2 linked regions of the Homo sapiens genome follow. The protein of the gene in region 1 purifies or fractionates together with the protein of each later gene. This does not show direct contact. Each region holds a gene or a part of one and is shown on either strand. Other genes may lie near its edges.

Region 1 (7,790 bases):
GGAGGGTAGGATGTGGAGATGTATACAGCAACAGCTACTAAACTAGTCCACTAAATACATGAGTGGTTGAGAAATAAGTGCGTACTACAAAGATTCTGACGTATGAGATGCTGTCTGGCTGGGTTAATCAGGAAACCCTTGGGGAGGGGTAGGGAACTCAAGCTGGGCCTTGACTCTCAGGTCTAACTTCGATTACACAGAGCTAGTGAAGGGAATTGGGAAGGAAAGCACTCAGGGAACTACGAATAAAGGTGGCTGCCTGGAATTAAACGTCCAGGGAGCAGTGAGAAAAAAAGGCTGGGGCCAGGTAGTGGCAGGCTTTGAAGGCTTGCCCAAGAGGCCTTTAACCCTTAGGCTGCCAGGTTATTTCCCTCCCATCGCCTGCAGCTTCTTTACAGCTGACACTTTCACCAGGAACCCAGGTACAAAACAAAGGTGGCAGCAGCTGCTTTTGTGATCAAAGGGTGCTCCTTCTGCATTTAAATTTGCAGGCTGCTACTCTGAGTGACTGAACAGGAAGCTAGCTGGTCCCTTTAGCGCTAACAAAGCTTGATTTAGGCTGAAAGATTAGAAAGCACATCTTATTCTATAAACGCTTCAACACTCTGTTATCCTTCAACAACCCTAACTAGGGCTGTGATCTAAGATTGACAATATTAACTTAATCCTTGTCAAATTTGTTTTCATTTTATGGCTCCCTGGCTCAAGGATCTACAACAACTCTTAGTACAGATAACAGGTCATTCAAATTTCTCTGCCTGGAATCCAAAGTTATACACAATCCAACCCTACCAAACCTTTTCAACTTTTATCTGTTACTATTCCTTTGTACCAACTTTCTTTTCTTTTTGTTTTTTTGAGACGGAGTCTCGCTCTGTTGCCCAGGCTGGAGTGCAGGGGCGCGATCTCCGCTCACGGCAGCCTCTGCCTCCCAGGCTCAAGCGATTCTCCAGCCTCAGCCTCCTGAGTAGCTGGGATTACAGGCATGCACCACCATGCCTGGCTAATTTTTGTATTTTCAGTAGAGCGGGGTTTCACCATGTTGGCCAGGCTGGTCTCAAACTCCTGGGCTCAAGCAATCCGCCTACCTTGTTCTCTCAAAGTGTTGGCATTACAGGCGTGAGCCACTGTGCCCACCACCAACTTTCTTTTCTTAGGAGGGCTAAATTACAACAGGGCTAGTGTTACAGTCTTAAATCAGTTGAGTTGAATTCAAATTAAGCAACAGTTTAGACCATTTTTTTTCAGAAAGAAACAAAAATATAAATTTTGCAAAAACGTTTGTAAGAATTTAGCAGTCCCAGTGGCTCATGCCTGTAATCCCAGCACTTCGGGAAGCTGAGATGGGAGGATGGCTTCAGTCCTGGAGTTAGAGACCAACCTAGGCAACATGGTGAAACCTCGTCACTACAATACAAAAATTAGCCGAGCGCAGTGGCACACTCCCTGTTGTCCCAGCTACTTCGGGAGGCTTGAGGCAGGAGGATTGCTTGAGCATAGGTCGAGGCTACAGTGAGCCATGATTTCACCACTGCACTCCAGCCTGGCAGACAGAGAGGGACCTTGTCTCAAAAAAAAAAAAAAAAAAAGAGAAGAATTTGCAGTCCTTATTCAAGATAAGTCCTTATTCAAGATAAGACATTCAAGATGTCTTTTCAAAATATGTTCTGAATCAAAAAAAAATCCAAAATTATTGTTTTCGTATCGCATAAATGTGAAAGACTCATCACAAATGACACTGATATAGTAATGTTCTATATCTTCGTAGGGGGTTGGATTGTATAGGTGTATGCATTAGTCAAAATCAGTGAACGTACACTTAAAGGTTTATATATTCCATTTTACATCAAAATAAACCGTCAACAAACTCTAGTCAATGACATGCATGCCAAAGTATTTAAAGGAAAGTGTACAGGTATCTGCAATTTAAATGGATGGATAGCTATATGATAAAGCAAGTAATATTAAAATGTTAATGGTAGGATAGATCCTAAGTGATGTGCTCCTTATAAAATTCTTTATACTTGGCTGGATATTCGAAAATTTTCATAATAAAATATGAGGGAAAATGACATTGGTAAGACACTGTACTTGTAAATTGTAAACACTGATAACACACTACATTTCATAAAATTGTAAGATGTTAAGTTTGGTGGCAGCACCAGGTATTTGCTCCTTGATGCTTCCAAACTACGCTGCACACACCTCTTACAGAATGGTTGCCTCTCCCAGCATACTATAAGTTCCTGGTGGGCACAGATCTAACCTAATTTGTATTTATATTCCTATTGCTTTGCATCATGTTTGGGGAATAATATGTATTCAACAATAGTGGCATGATTGAATTAAAGTGGAATACTGCTAACGAACAAAGTATTATATTTCTAGCAGATTCACTATTCTTTTCTTACATATTCTAAAGGTTAATACGCTCAATATCCAAGAGAAATGTGTCCTTACTTCTCTCCAAGCATACGAAATTTCCAAAGTTTTTTTAAAAAAACTACTCATTAGATAATTTTATATTGTTACTTAAACCCAAGATCTGAAGGCCTCCTAACATTCAATAACTTTTTAGTAGTTTTTTTTTTTTCCTAGAAGAGCAAAGTCTCAGAACTCCACGGAAGCCTGGAAATCGTTTTATTCTAATTTTAGATAAGCTGTCTGAACTAAGAGATCTCTGAACTGGTCAAAAGCAGGAAAGTGGGGGTCTGGGAAGAAGACAAAAACAAACGCCACATAAAACGTCATGGAGCAAACTAATCAAGAACTTTAGCAAGAAACGGAGAGAAAGTCTTAAGGAGGACACCCAGAACATCTCCAGCTCCTCCTGGCCCGTCTCCTCAACTCCTCTTAATTCCAGCCAGTCAGAGCGCGGGGCCATCTGCCACTCCCAGGATGCCACGCGACGGGAGCGGACGCTGCGAGGATGCACCTCCACACGTCAACCTCCCACAAACAGCATGGCTTCGTGGCGTGAGCACCCGGTTCGGACCTGAACGCCTGGGTCCGAGTCCCACCTCCCCCTCCTGCCTGGTCTGCAGCCCTGCGCAAGTCCTCTTGCCCTCGCTGAGCCTCAGTTTCCTCATCTGTAAAATGTAATGATTCCCTATAATTGGCTACAGGGAGATGAGAAGTGTAAATGGTTTTAAGGAAGACACAGGCAACTCTCTAACTTGTTACGGCTCTGAACCTCGCGGTGCTCACTAACCAGCCTTGAGACCAATCTCTCAAAGTCACCCCGCTCCTCCCTTCCCGCCCGGCGCCTGTACTGAGGCCGCTCCCTCCTGTTGGCCCCCATGCGGAAGGCGCGCGGCGCCGTCTGCCGTACCTGCAGCCACCTGGTCAGCGGGGCCCTCTTGCTGACCCACGACGAAGTCGTGCACGAGGCCCCATAGGGCACCCATAGGCGCCGCCGCCTCCACAGCCGCGGCAGCGGCCATAACGCGAACTAGAGACCGTGGGAGGGGATATGGGCGGTGGCTCGAGACGGGCTCTCCGCGCATGCGCCTCCCGAGCCAATCTCCGGGGAAGCGCAAGGGGGCGGGGCGCCGGGGTCACGTGCCTGCCGGCTTCTGCCTAGGCAGTTCCAGGGAGGGGCGGGGCCTGAAATGGGGCGGTGGCACCGAGAGGGAAGGCGGCTGCTGGGCACGCAGCCGGAGGCGATTGAGGGCGAATAATTCCCAGCCCGGCTCCCCGGGAGACGGGCTGCGGGGCGGGCACCTGGCTGGGTGGGGAGAGGGGCGGTACGCACCACGGGGGAAGCCAATGAGAAAATCAGGCCCAGCCCTAGGGGGCGGTGCTGTCGGTCACATGCGCACCTGGGGCGGGTGGTGGCGGCGGCGCGGGCACCGCGAGCCGGCGGAAGGGAGAGGGGCCGGCCTGGGGCGGGGTTAGGCAGGTGAGTGACAGGCTCCAGGGGGCCGGCCCCTGCCTGGTGCCCCGAGCGAGCCGGGAGTAGCTGCGGCGGTGCCCGCCCCCTCTCTCCGCCCCTCCAGCGGAGCTGGTCTCCGGCCGGGCACCGTCGCGGGCCCCCCTGGCCCGGCCACCTGGGACCGTGCTGGGGAGTCTGCCACTTCCCTCTCTCCCCTGGCCCGCAAAGTTTTGGCGGAGCCATCGCTGGGGCTGAGCGCGCCCCCGGGGGGAGATCGGGGAGCGCCCGATGCCGGGCGGCCGGAGCCATTGACCCGGGACGCCGCCGTCCGCTGAGCAGCCGACCACCCCGCCGCCTCCGGTGCATGGGGACTGGCTGAGGAGCCAGCATGGGCAACTGCGTGGGGAGACAGCGCCGGGAGAGGCCGGCAGCCCCGGGACACCCCCGCAAGCGAGCAGGTAACGATGGGGAAGGGAGCAGGGCCTCGGGCATCCCGCCAGTTGTCCCCCTCCTCGCCCGAGTCCTGGGCTTACCGATGGACTCCCCACTGGTGCTGGCGCTTGGGTTTCCCCGATGGGCTGCTCCGCAGCCAGAGGGGGCCGCTCCCCAGCGCCGGGCGGCCGGGGGAGCTGAGTTGGGGCAACTGCGAGCACTGAGCCGGCTGCGCGACCAACTCTCTCCAACTGGGTAGCTCCTGGTGGGGGTGGGGGCAGGAAATGTTTGCAGACCGCAGCGGGGCCGACGGATCGGGAGGAGGCCGGGGGCGAGGGCGCCGCTGGCCTGGCAGCTCCGGCCGGGGTCGGACGCCGGCCCGTCGGGGCACGGCGCGGGCAGCCAGGCGTCCCCAGAACTCGGAGCGAGCGAGGCGAGAACAGTCGCTCCTTCCAAAGACTGTGTCATTATCGAGCTGCAGATCGTGTCTGCGGGAATCCGACTTGCAAAGCAGCGCAGGACTCTGGGAAAGAAATCTTTATTTTTCCCGCAGGGGTTTTTAGAGCCTCTCGGCCGTCTGGGAGTCTATAAAAGATGGGGTGCGGGGTGAGAGTCACCCTTGGGATTGTTGGGATCCTTCCCAGCTTTGGGAGTGAGATCGCTCGCTGGTGATCCTCCAGGCCCGCGCAACGCTTTCTCACTTTCATGGTACACCCCGCCTGCCCTGGCATTTCGCCCCGGGAAGAGGTCTGTCGGTCATTTTTCTGGGTCTTACACTCACTTCCTTCTTTGAGGGTGTTGCAAGGACCCGCTGGGAATAATATCGTAGACTTGAGAGCTCAAACTTGTCTGGATTCCAGATGGACCCATCTCCTACTCTGTGTCAAAGCCCAGATCCTGAGAGGTTGAACACCTTGTCCAAAGTCACACAGCTAGTTAGGAGCTCACCTGGGGCTAGAACTCAGCCTCCTCTCCCACCCCATTGCCACATATCCCCTTATGTAAGAGGAGCCACAGGCAGAGTTGTTAATGAAGTGGAAACTCTAGTTGGAGTTTCCTGTCTCCCTTGACACCGAAGGTGTGTTGCTTGGGTTGCGGAAACTGGGAAGGAAGATGGGGGAACCAGGGGAAGCAGGGAAGGATGTCTGCATGGTGGACAGGATGACTTGTGGAGGCAGAAATGTGTTTTTATGGGAAGGATGCAGTAAAACTTATTGAAATTCTCTTGTCTGAAGGTAACTCTGGCCATTCTTCTGGCTGAGGAGAGATGACTCTCAAAACCAAGGGCTGGCTTGCTTTCATTCATTCATTTGTTCAACAAATATGTGTTCAGGCCCCATAATTGATTTTGCAGCATTTTTTGCTGTTGACAACTCTCTCCTACGAGACATTCCCCCCCTTCCTTTCTTGGCATCAGACTGTCTTGGTTTTCCTTTCTGAACACCCCTTTCCACCATCACCTTCTAGCTTGGGGGCACGCTGGTGCTTAAGTTTGACATTCTGTTTTTTCTCTCATTACACTCTCTCCCAGAGAAATCTTGTTCAGTCCCACAACTCTTTGTCCATTGGGAATACCCCTATGCTTAAACTTCAGCTCTTCTCTCTTGAACCCCAGAACCCCATCTCTAGATGCCCACTGGACACTGTGATATAGATATTCCCAGATTTAACACCTCCAAAACCAGGCTCTGCATCGCTCCCTGTCCACCAGCTTTCCTTCTTTACTCTTATGTTCTTCCAGCTGCCTAACTTTAGGCTGTGAAGAGCTCTTTCTCTCATGACTTTCTCTGCTTCCTTGTCGCCTGCCTCTCAGCCAGTCATTGGGGTCTGCTGGGTCTTCCTTCCGCGGGACTTGCAAACCTGCCCCTTGCCACCCTACTTTGTACCCTTCTCACCTCAAGTCAACCCTTGTCTCAGGCTGAAGTGAGGTACCCCCCAAAGGCAACTTCATCTTCAGTCATCATTCAGTCCTACACACAGTTGTCCCCACAGAAGACATTTGTTAAATTAACTTCTTCCAGATTTTATAGTTCTGTGTTCAGAATGTTTCTGTACTTGGCCAGGCGTGGTGGCTCATGCCTGTAATCCCAGCACTTTGGGAGGCCAAGGCAGGTGGATCACCTGAGATCAGGAGTTCGAGACCAGCCTGGCCAACATGGCAAAACCCTGTCTCTACTAAAAATACAAAACTTAGCCAGGCATGGTGGTGGCAGGCGCCTGTAATCCCAGCTACTCAGGAGGCTGAGGCAGGGAGATTGCTTGAACTGGAAGTTTCGCAGAGGTTGTAGTGAGCTGAGATTGCGCCACTGCACTCCAGCCTGGGTGACAGAGCGAGACTCTGTCTCAAAAAAAAACAAAACAACAGCAACAACAACAACAAAACACCTTTCTGCATTTTCCCACTCCTACAAGTACTTTAACTTTCAAGGCTGTTCAAGTGTGGGCCAGTCCTTTCTTTTAAGTCCTGATTTCTTTCCCTTCTCTGACATTAAGACCACCAGTGTTTGCTCGTGCCATTTCCTTCTTATCGAGAGTCTTTCATCCTTTGGGTTCATTTCAAGTGCCGTGCCTTGTTTGAAGCACCTTGCCTGACAAGTCTGCCATTTCCCCCTCCCTCCGCACCCCACCACACACACCCCGTGGAAGTGATTGCTCCTTCTGAGAACTCCTGCAGACACATTATCTATGCCACTTACTTAACAATTATGTACTCTGTATTATTAATCATGTCTTTGATGTTTACAGTCTTTTATCAGCAACTACATTGCAAGCCTTGAAGACCTGGGTTCTGTCTTATCCTTGTAGTATATGTCTCTCTCACGCACACACACACATTCAGCACTTAACACAATGAGTTGTACAGAAGTAGCACTCAGTATTTGTTGATTTTAGAAAGCAAACTCAACTTCATCCTACCATCTGCATTTTTCATATATCTGCATTTTTTTTTTTACCTGCTAGTTTATCATTGCTTTAGTTCTGTGGGTCCTACTATGAATAGCTTTATTCATAAAGTCCAAAGCCGAGGGGAACTCTGTAGGATGACAAATTTGGTACAAGGGAAGGAATCCTTCTTAACTCCACAGTGCACCTGGCATTCCTGTAACATCTGTGGCTTTTCCTTTGACAAGGACATAGTTTTACGTTGTAAGACTAATGCCTAAAACTCCCCCAGCGCCACTGTAACTCTTACCTTCCTTTGGCACTAATGTAATGGGAAGAAAGCCTCAACAGGGAGCTAGGACCTGAGTTCTAGTCCTGGGCCTATAACTCAGTGACCCTGGGCAAGTCATCTAACCTTTCTGGGTCACACTTTCAATATTTCAGAAAGGGGGAGGGTTATACAAGATCATTAGAGCTGTTTTATCATCTTCACAAAGGCAGCTGTTTAAAGCGAGAAAGTTATTGAGGTGAAATCTTTATGGCTTGTAATGTCACCCTTTGTCCTTAGTTCTGCCTTCTTAGTCACTTGGTAGACAAAGCA
Region 2 (7,000 bases), on another chromosome or scaffold:
AAGATATTATATTAGGCACTGGGCTTTTATAAAGACTAATGTATCATTAGCCTGAAGGTTCTTCAGTGTATTAGGGGTGATTGACATGAAGTCAGATGATTATAATATGGCAGGGTTTCTCAACCTCAGGACTAACATCATTTTGGGTCTGATAATTCCTTGTTGCAGGGATTGTTCTGTGCACTGTAGGATGCTCAGTAGCATCTCTGGCTTCTACCCCTACATATTTCCAGACATGCCAAATGTATCCCGTGCAATACAGGATGATGACTGTGTTTATAGATGCATGCTCCAGGAACTCCAAAAACATACATAATTATGCAGCTCAGATTGGGGAGGTTTGGGAAGGCTTTCCAGAAGAGGTAGTAGTGGAGCTGCATGTTGACAGATGTGATTAGATTTTCATTTTGGGAAGATGACTGCCAGCAGCAGATTGACAGGGTCATGTCTGTTAGGAGGGAAACCAGTTAGAAGCCCGGAAATGATGAGAGTCTGAATTAAATGAGAGAAGGGGACCGGTTGAAGAGACATTAAGAAGGTAGAATCAAAAGGTTTTAGTGACTGATTGTAGGGGGAATGGAGAGAGAAGAGTTATAAATGACACCCAGGTTTCTAGTTAGGAAAATTAGTGGATGGTGGTAATATTTTGAGATGTGATATGCAGGAGGAGAAGCAAGTCTTGGAAGACGTAGAGTTTAGTTCTTAACATGAATTTGAGGTGCCTGTGGAGATGTCTAGTGGACAATTGGATATACAGGTCTGAATATACAGGAAGACATGTGGTGGGAGTAGATTTAGCAGAAGGTTGGAATCATCAGGAGTAGGTAAGAGCACCCTAGAAAAATATTTGAGTGAGAAGAGATGACAGTGGAAGTTAAGACATGAGGAATACCAATATTGAAGGTAAAGTGGAATTGGAGGAATTTGGGAAGGAGAATGGAAAGGAGCTTTCTCAGAAGTAGGAGATGAACCAGGATAGTAGTGTCATAGAAGCCAAGGAGGGCTAGAGTTTCAATAATAATGATCATGATATTAATAATGATAATAGGGAATAACAGCAGATATTTATATTAATAGTATGTTTGCTATGTACCAGATTTTGTTCTAAGTGCATTACATATATTAACCCATGTATGTAATTCATACAGCAGTCTTATGAGGTGGGTATTATTATCATCCCTATTTTACAGATACAGCCTATTTATTCACAGACTGAATAACTTGCCCAAGCTCATAAGATGGTAAATGGTGGAGCCAAGATTTGAATCTGGGTATTTTGTTTCTGTAGTGGTGCTTTTAACCACAATAGTTTCAGAAGCTTAAGATAGATTATGTAAGATGAATTGTACAGTGTCCATTGGATTTAGCAGCTGGATGGGCCCTTATAGATAGGGGCAGAGACCAGAACAATGACAGTGGTTGGAGAAGGAAGGTGGAGCGGTGGATATAGAAGATGTACTTTTTTAAAATGTGTAGCTGAAAAGAGAAGAGAAATAGGGCAGAATATAGGGGTTGTTTTAGGGAAAAGAGAAGATATACAAGCACACACTTGTACATATATGACAGGAGATACTTAAACATGTTTATAAGCTGAGCAGAAGATCTAGAATAGAATGGGGAAGAGGGGAGCTTGAAGTTGAAACTTTGAGAGAGCATTTGATAAGTCAGGGTCTTTAAGAGGCACAAGCAAATGGGTTGCGGGGTTTAGGTGCAGGAATTAGCTTTTCATATGGTTTGGCTGTGTCCCCACCCAAATCTCATCTTGAATTGTAGTTCCCATAATCCCCATGTGTCATGGGAGGGACCCGGTGGGAGGTAATTGAATCATGGGGGTGGTTACCCCCATGCTGCTATTCTAGATAGTGAGTTCTCACAAGATCTGATGGTTTTATAAGGGGCTTTTCCCTATTTTGCTCAGCACTTCTCCTTACTGCCACCATGTGAAGAAGGACGTGTTTGTTTCCCCTTCTGCCATGATTGTAAGTTTCCTGAGGTCTCCCCAGCCCTGGGGAACTGTGAGTCAGTTAAACCTCTTTCCTTTTATGGGTTTACTCAGTCTTGGGTATGTCTTTATTAGCAGCATGAGAATGGACTAATGTAGCTTTACATGCCAGGAAGAGGAGATGCTTTGTAGAGATGTATGGAAGGCAACACAACATGTGTATGCGGAAGCTTGGGACTGAAGGATTCTGCCTGGTAGCCTTTATTTTCTGTAAAGTAGGTGAAGTCATCTGTTCAGAGAGAAGGGAAAGGTGCTATAGTAGGGGTCTTGGGACAACTGGTGAAGACTGACGATTTTCTGAGAAGTGAGGAAGGAGATGATTTTGTGTCGAATCTCAACACTGCTGCTTACTCTGGACAAGCTTTGTGACCCTGAACAAGTTACATAACTTCTCTGTGCCTCAGTTTCCTTATCTGTAAAATAAGATTATAGTAGTGCCTCCCTCATAGGGTTTTTTTTTTTTTAAAGGATTAAATGGGTTCATGCCTTAAAAATTCTTAGGGCACCGCCTGGTACCTAGTGAGTGCTCAAGACATGTTTGTTCTTATTATTTTGGATCCAACTGTTGGTAAGGATCTAGTTGAGATTATAGGCCACGAAATTATATTTTCCAAATTCCCATAGTTGTGTTTTTTCTCCAGAGGTTCTTAGCATTTTGAGAATAGGACTGCAGAGTGTAGTTGTAGATTAAGAATCTAGGTTTTGCCAAATGGTTGAAATTAAAGAAGCTGAGGTTGGTGTAAGAAGTGGTTGAGGTGGTGAGCACCTTGGATATAGGCTGGATAAGAAGAAAATTAAAAGAGAGGGGTTGGTGGGAAGAAAATAGTGCGGTCCAAACTCAAGGGGTTTTGTCAAGATTAGTTTACTTCTCGGTTTCATCTGATTGATAGCTTAAGGTAAATGATAATTATCCTGAAAAGCATATTAAGAAATGTTTTGGCAATGAGAACACATGGACACAGGGAGGGGAACACCCCACACCAGGGCCTGTCAGGGGGTTGGGGTCAAGGGGAGAGACAGCATTAGGACAAATACCTAATGCATGTGGGGCTTAAAACCTAGATGACGGGCAGCAAACCACCATGGCACACGTATACCTATGTAACAAACCTGCACATTCTGCACATGTATCCCAGAACTTAAAGTAAAAAGGAAAAAAAAAAAAGAAATGTTTTGGGACTGGGTGTGGTGGCTCATGCCTGTAATTCTAGTGCTTTGAGGGACTAGAGTAGGAGTCTTGAAACCAGGAGTTCATAACCAGCCTAGGCAACATATTGAGACTCCATCATACAGAAGATAAAAAATTAGCGGGGCATGGTGGGTGTCGCTTGTAGTCCCAGCTGCTTGGGAGGTTGAGGCTGGAGGATCACTTGAGCCCAGGAGTTTGAAGTTACAGTGAGCTGTGATTGACCACTACTCTCCAGTCTGGGTGGTAGAGCAAGACCCCATCTCTAAAAAAAGAAATGTTTTTGAAACTTACTTTACCATTGGCTTAGGCTGGCTCAGTATTTCCTTACACCTCTTACCATTCTAATGCATTTATTTTATTCATGTGTCATTATTTTTAAGGAAAACTTAGAAGATGAATATGAACCACGAAGAAGAGATCATATTTCTCATTTTATTTTGCGGCTTGCTTATTGCCAGTCGTAAGTATATGTTTATATTCTCACAGTCAAATCTGGTGTCATGGGTTATAAATTGGTGTGTGGTAAGTTGATGTGTTGTGCTAAACATAGGAAAACCCAGAATAACATCAGGAGCCGGTTGATCATGGGGTTGAACACTGACAGTAAATTGTTTGGAAGAAATTGTTTACTTAAAAATATTGAAAAAAATTCTATCGCAGAATTTTGCCTGATGAAACACTTCTTAAGTTTGTGAGATAGACTCTTCATTTGGGATTTTAAATTGGAAAGGATTTTATTGGGAAGAAGGACTTTTGATATTTTTCCTGCAAAAAAATGGTAATATTTATAAGAAACAATTAATGAAACCCACACTTGAATTTGATACAGGTTTTTGGAATTTGAGCTCTATGGGCCAGTTAAATCGAAGATATTTTTGTTTGGTAGTTGGTTTCTTTTAAGTTAATAGTGCCACCCAGAGGTAGTAAAGTTAGTTGCTTTTTTAAAAATTGTTTTTCCCTCACATGTTAATTTTGGTCACATAATTTAGTTATGGCTGTCTTTTTTTAAAATTAATAAGCTTATCAAGTGAGACTCTGGAATTGCTTACTATCCCAAGATAATAATTGAGAAATTACTTACCAGTTTTGGTTCTAGAGTTTTTCTTCTGTAAAAAAGCATATGTAGTTTGTGAAATTTATATAATAAATATGTTGCTGACAATCTGTGAAAATCTCCTAAAAATGTGAAATCATATTTTGCATCCAGTAGGGTAATTATTTTATTATATAACGATAATGCCCATTAGTATCTGCCTTATAAATGAACGTTATTGCTTTTAAATATTGTGGTATATATGTGCATATTAAATTTTGTGAAATTATCAATTATAAAGCCATAAGCAAAGTTTCCTTTGCAAAGTTAATCTGATCAAAGTTGCCTTAAAAAATTTGGTGTCTTTTATTTGGCATTTATAAAGACACCTCAAGCCAAAGGAGTGCCCCATTTCCCCATTTTCTTTTTTTTTTCTCTTTTCTCTCTCTCTCTTTTTTTTTTTTGAGCTAGGGTCTCATGCCATTACCTAGGCTGGAGTACAGTGGTGTGATCTCGGCTCACTGCAGCCTCAACATCCGTGGGCTCAGGTGATCCTCCCACCTCAGCCTCCTGAGGAGCTGGGACTATAGGCACATGCTACCATGCCTGGCTAATTTTTTTGTAGATATGGGGTTTTACCAACTTGCCCAGGCTGGTCTCAAACTTCTGGGCTCGAGCAATCTGCCTGCCTTGACCTCCCAAGGTGCTGGGATTACGGGCATGAACCACGACGCCCAGCCCCTATTTTCTAACATAAAATGAATATTTTGCAGTTACATTAAATGCATGAAGTATTTTATGTTATTTAAAAATAATGCAGCTAGTCTCGAAGCATTCTTGTATTTAATCTTTTTAATTTTTAACACCCCCTATACCTTGTACCCAACCCATCCTTAGAAGATTGTGATATGTGGTATTGATATTCTCCTTACCGTGATAGAGGACTTGCATGTTTTTAACTGCTGTCCATTGGCATCTTGCTGATGTTTGAATATTGTTTTATAAACATTTCTTAGATTTAATAATTACTGGATTTTTAGTTTGTACTCATAATTTCTGTCTTCATTTCAGTGAAGAACTTAGACGCTGGTTCATTCAACAAGAAATGGATCTCCTTCGATTTAGATTTAGTATTTTACCCAAGGATAAAATTCAGGATTTCTTAAAGGATAGCCAATTGCAGTTTGAGGCTGTAAGTATATTTTTGTAGTTATTTCTAATTGTTCTCACCATTCATTTTTCCCTTCTGTCTTAAGTGCTGGTACTAATGTGTAGTGTGTTCTCTTTACATTCTCCAAGTACCTGCCTGAAACAGTAGCTAATAGCTTTGGATAACAATATATCTTTCCTTCTCTATGACTAGAAGAAAAGGACTCCTTAATAACAAAGTCTCACACTTACTTGCTCTGTTAAATGTGTGCTTTATTAAAGCACAAGAAGGTTTAGTTTATAAAGGTTCATCTTTAACCAAAATTTTGTCGGCCAAAATAAAGCTAATAATGTGTTAAACTAGACAAGTGGTAGTTTCTTATTTATAGTCGTGAAATTTAGAGGAGGTAATACTTTATTTAAAAGTCAGTTGTCAGGCGGGGCGTGGTGCCTCACACCTGTAATCCCAGCACTTTGGGAGTCTGTGGTGGGCAGATCACTTGAGGTCAAAAGTGCGAGACCATCTTGACCAACATAGTGAAACCCCCACTCTACAAAAAATACAAAAATTAGCCAGGCATGGTGCTGCGCGTCCATAATTCCAGCTAGTCAGGAGGCTAAGGCATGAAAATTGCTTGAACCCGGGAGGTGGAGGTTGCAATGAGCTGAGATCATGCCGCTGCACTCTAGTCTGGGCGAAAGAGCAAGACTCCGTCTCAAAAAAAAAATAAAAACCATAAATCAAAAATGTCAGTAAGATCTGTATGAATAGTTTTAAAAAATAATTTTGCAGACATATCTGAATGATTTACATATTGTAATTATATAAAAAAAGAAGAGATCTTTGGGACTCATTTAATGGGGATGAGTATTGGAAATAGAATTTGTATCTTTTTTTTTTTTTTTTTTTTTTTTTTGAGATGGAGCCTCACTCTGTCATCCAGGCTGGAATATGCAGTGGCCTGATCTCGGCTCACTGCAACCTCCACCTTCTGGGTTCAAGCGATTCTCCTGCCTCAGCCTCCTGAGTAGCTGTGACTACAGGTGTGTGCCACCATGCCTGGCTAATTTTTGTATTTTTAGAGACGTAGTTTTGCCATGTTGGCCAGGGTGGTCTTGAACCCCCTGACCTCAGGTGATACACCCGCCTCGGCCTCCCAAAGTGCTGGGATTACAGGTGTGAGCCACCGTGCCGGGCCTAGAATTTATGTCTTTTAGGTAGATATATGCCACAATGGGAATGTAGAAACATTATGTTTTGGAAGTTTTAGAGCAGTCAGATGGTAGTAGGACTGGCAGAGACTCTATTTTGTTGTTGGAATGCGTGGCTTAAAGCCAAATAAAATAAAAAAGTAGAAGTTGCAATAGGTGAAAGACATTGTCCTGTCTGACAAGTAGAAGACATATCCACTGTAGCAAGGAACACTATGGAGTATATGAGTTAGGGAAAAGAGACTGTGAAGGGAAGTGAACAAACATTTTGTAGACGTTTAGTGTCAAATATATGCTAGGTAGGCAGTTTCTATAGTTTCTTTCATTTACTTCATGAGGTTTCTAAGTCACATCTACCTTTGCATAGACAGATGTCATGCATGGTACCATCTGAACCAAACCCACTGCATCTTCC

What was found. Proteins that work in one complex are often made in the same cells at the same time.
Region 2: the proteins of MMS19 (region 1) and PRIM2 purify together in Homo sapiens (affinity purification with western blotting; 5 studies listed by BioGRID and IntAct, with this or other methods). This does not show direct contact.

What each region holds. Positions count from the first base shown.
Region 1 is NC_000010.11:97,494,942-97,502,731, forward strand, and holds the start of MMS19 (MMS19 nucleotide excision repair protein homolog), read right to left. Parts: upstream 3,482-7,790; 5' UTR 3,444-3,481; coding exon 3,332-3,443; intron 1-3,331. Other genes in the region: UBTD1 (ubiquitin domain-containing protein 1), read left to right, coding at 4,263-4,332. UniProt on the Homo sapiens protein: Key component of the cytosolic iron-sulfur protein assembly (CIA) complex, a multiprotein complex that mediates the incorporation of iron-sulfur cluster into apoproteins specifically involved in DNA metabolism and genomic integrity.
Region 2 is NC_000006.12:57,320,630-57,327,629, forward strand, and holds part of PRIM2 (DNA primase large subunit), read left to right. Parts: intron 1-3,571; coding exon 3,572-3,651; intron 3,652-5,295; coding exon 5,296-5,416; coding exon of another isoform or gene 5,417-5,434; exon of another isoform or gene 5,435-5,738; intron 5,739-7,000. UniProt on the Homo sapiens protein: Regulatory subunit of the DNA primase complex and component of the DNA polymerase alpha complex (also known as the alpha DNA polymerase-primase complex) which play an essential role in the initiation of DNA synthesis.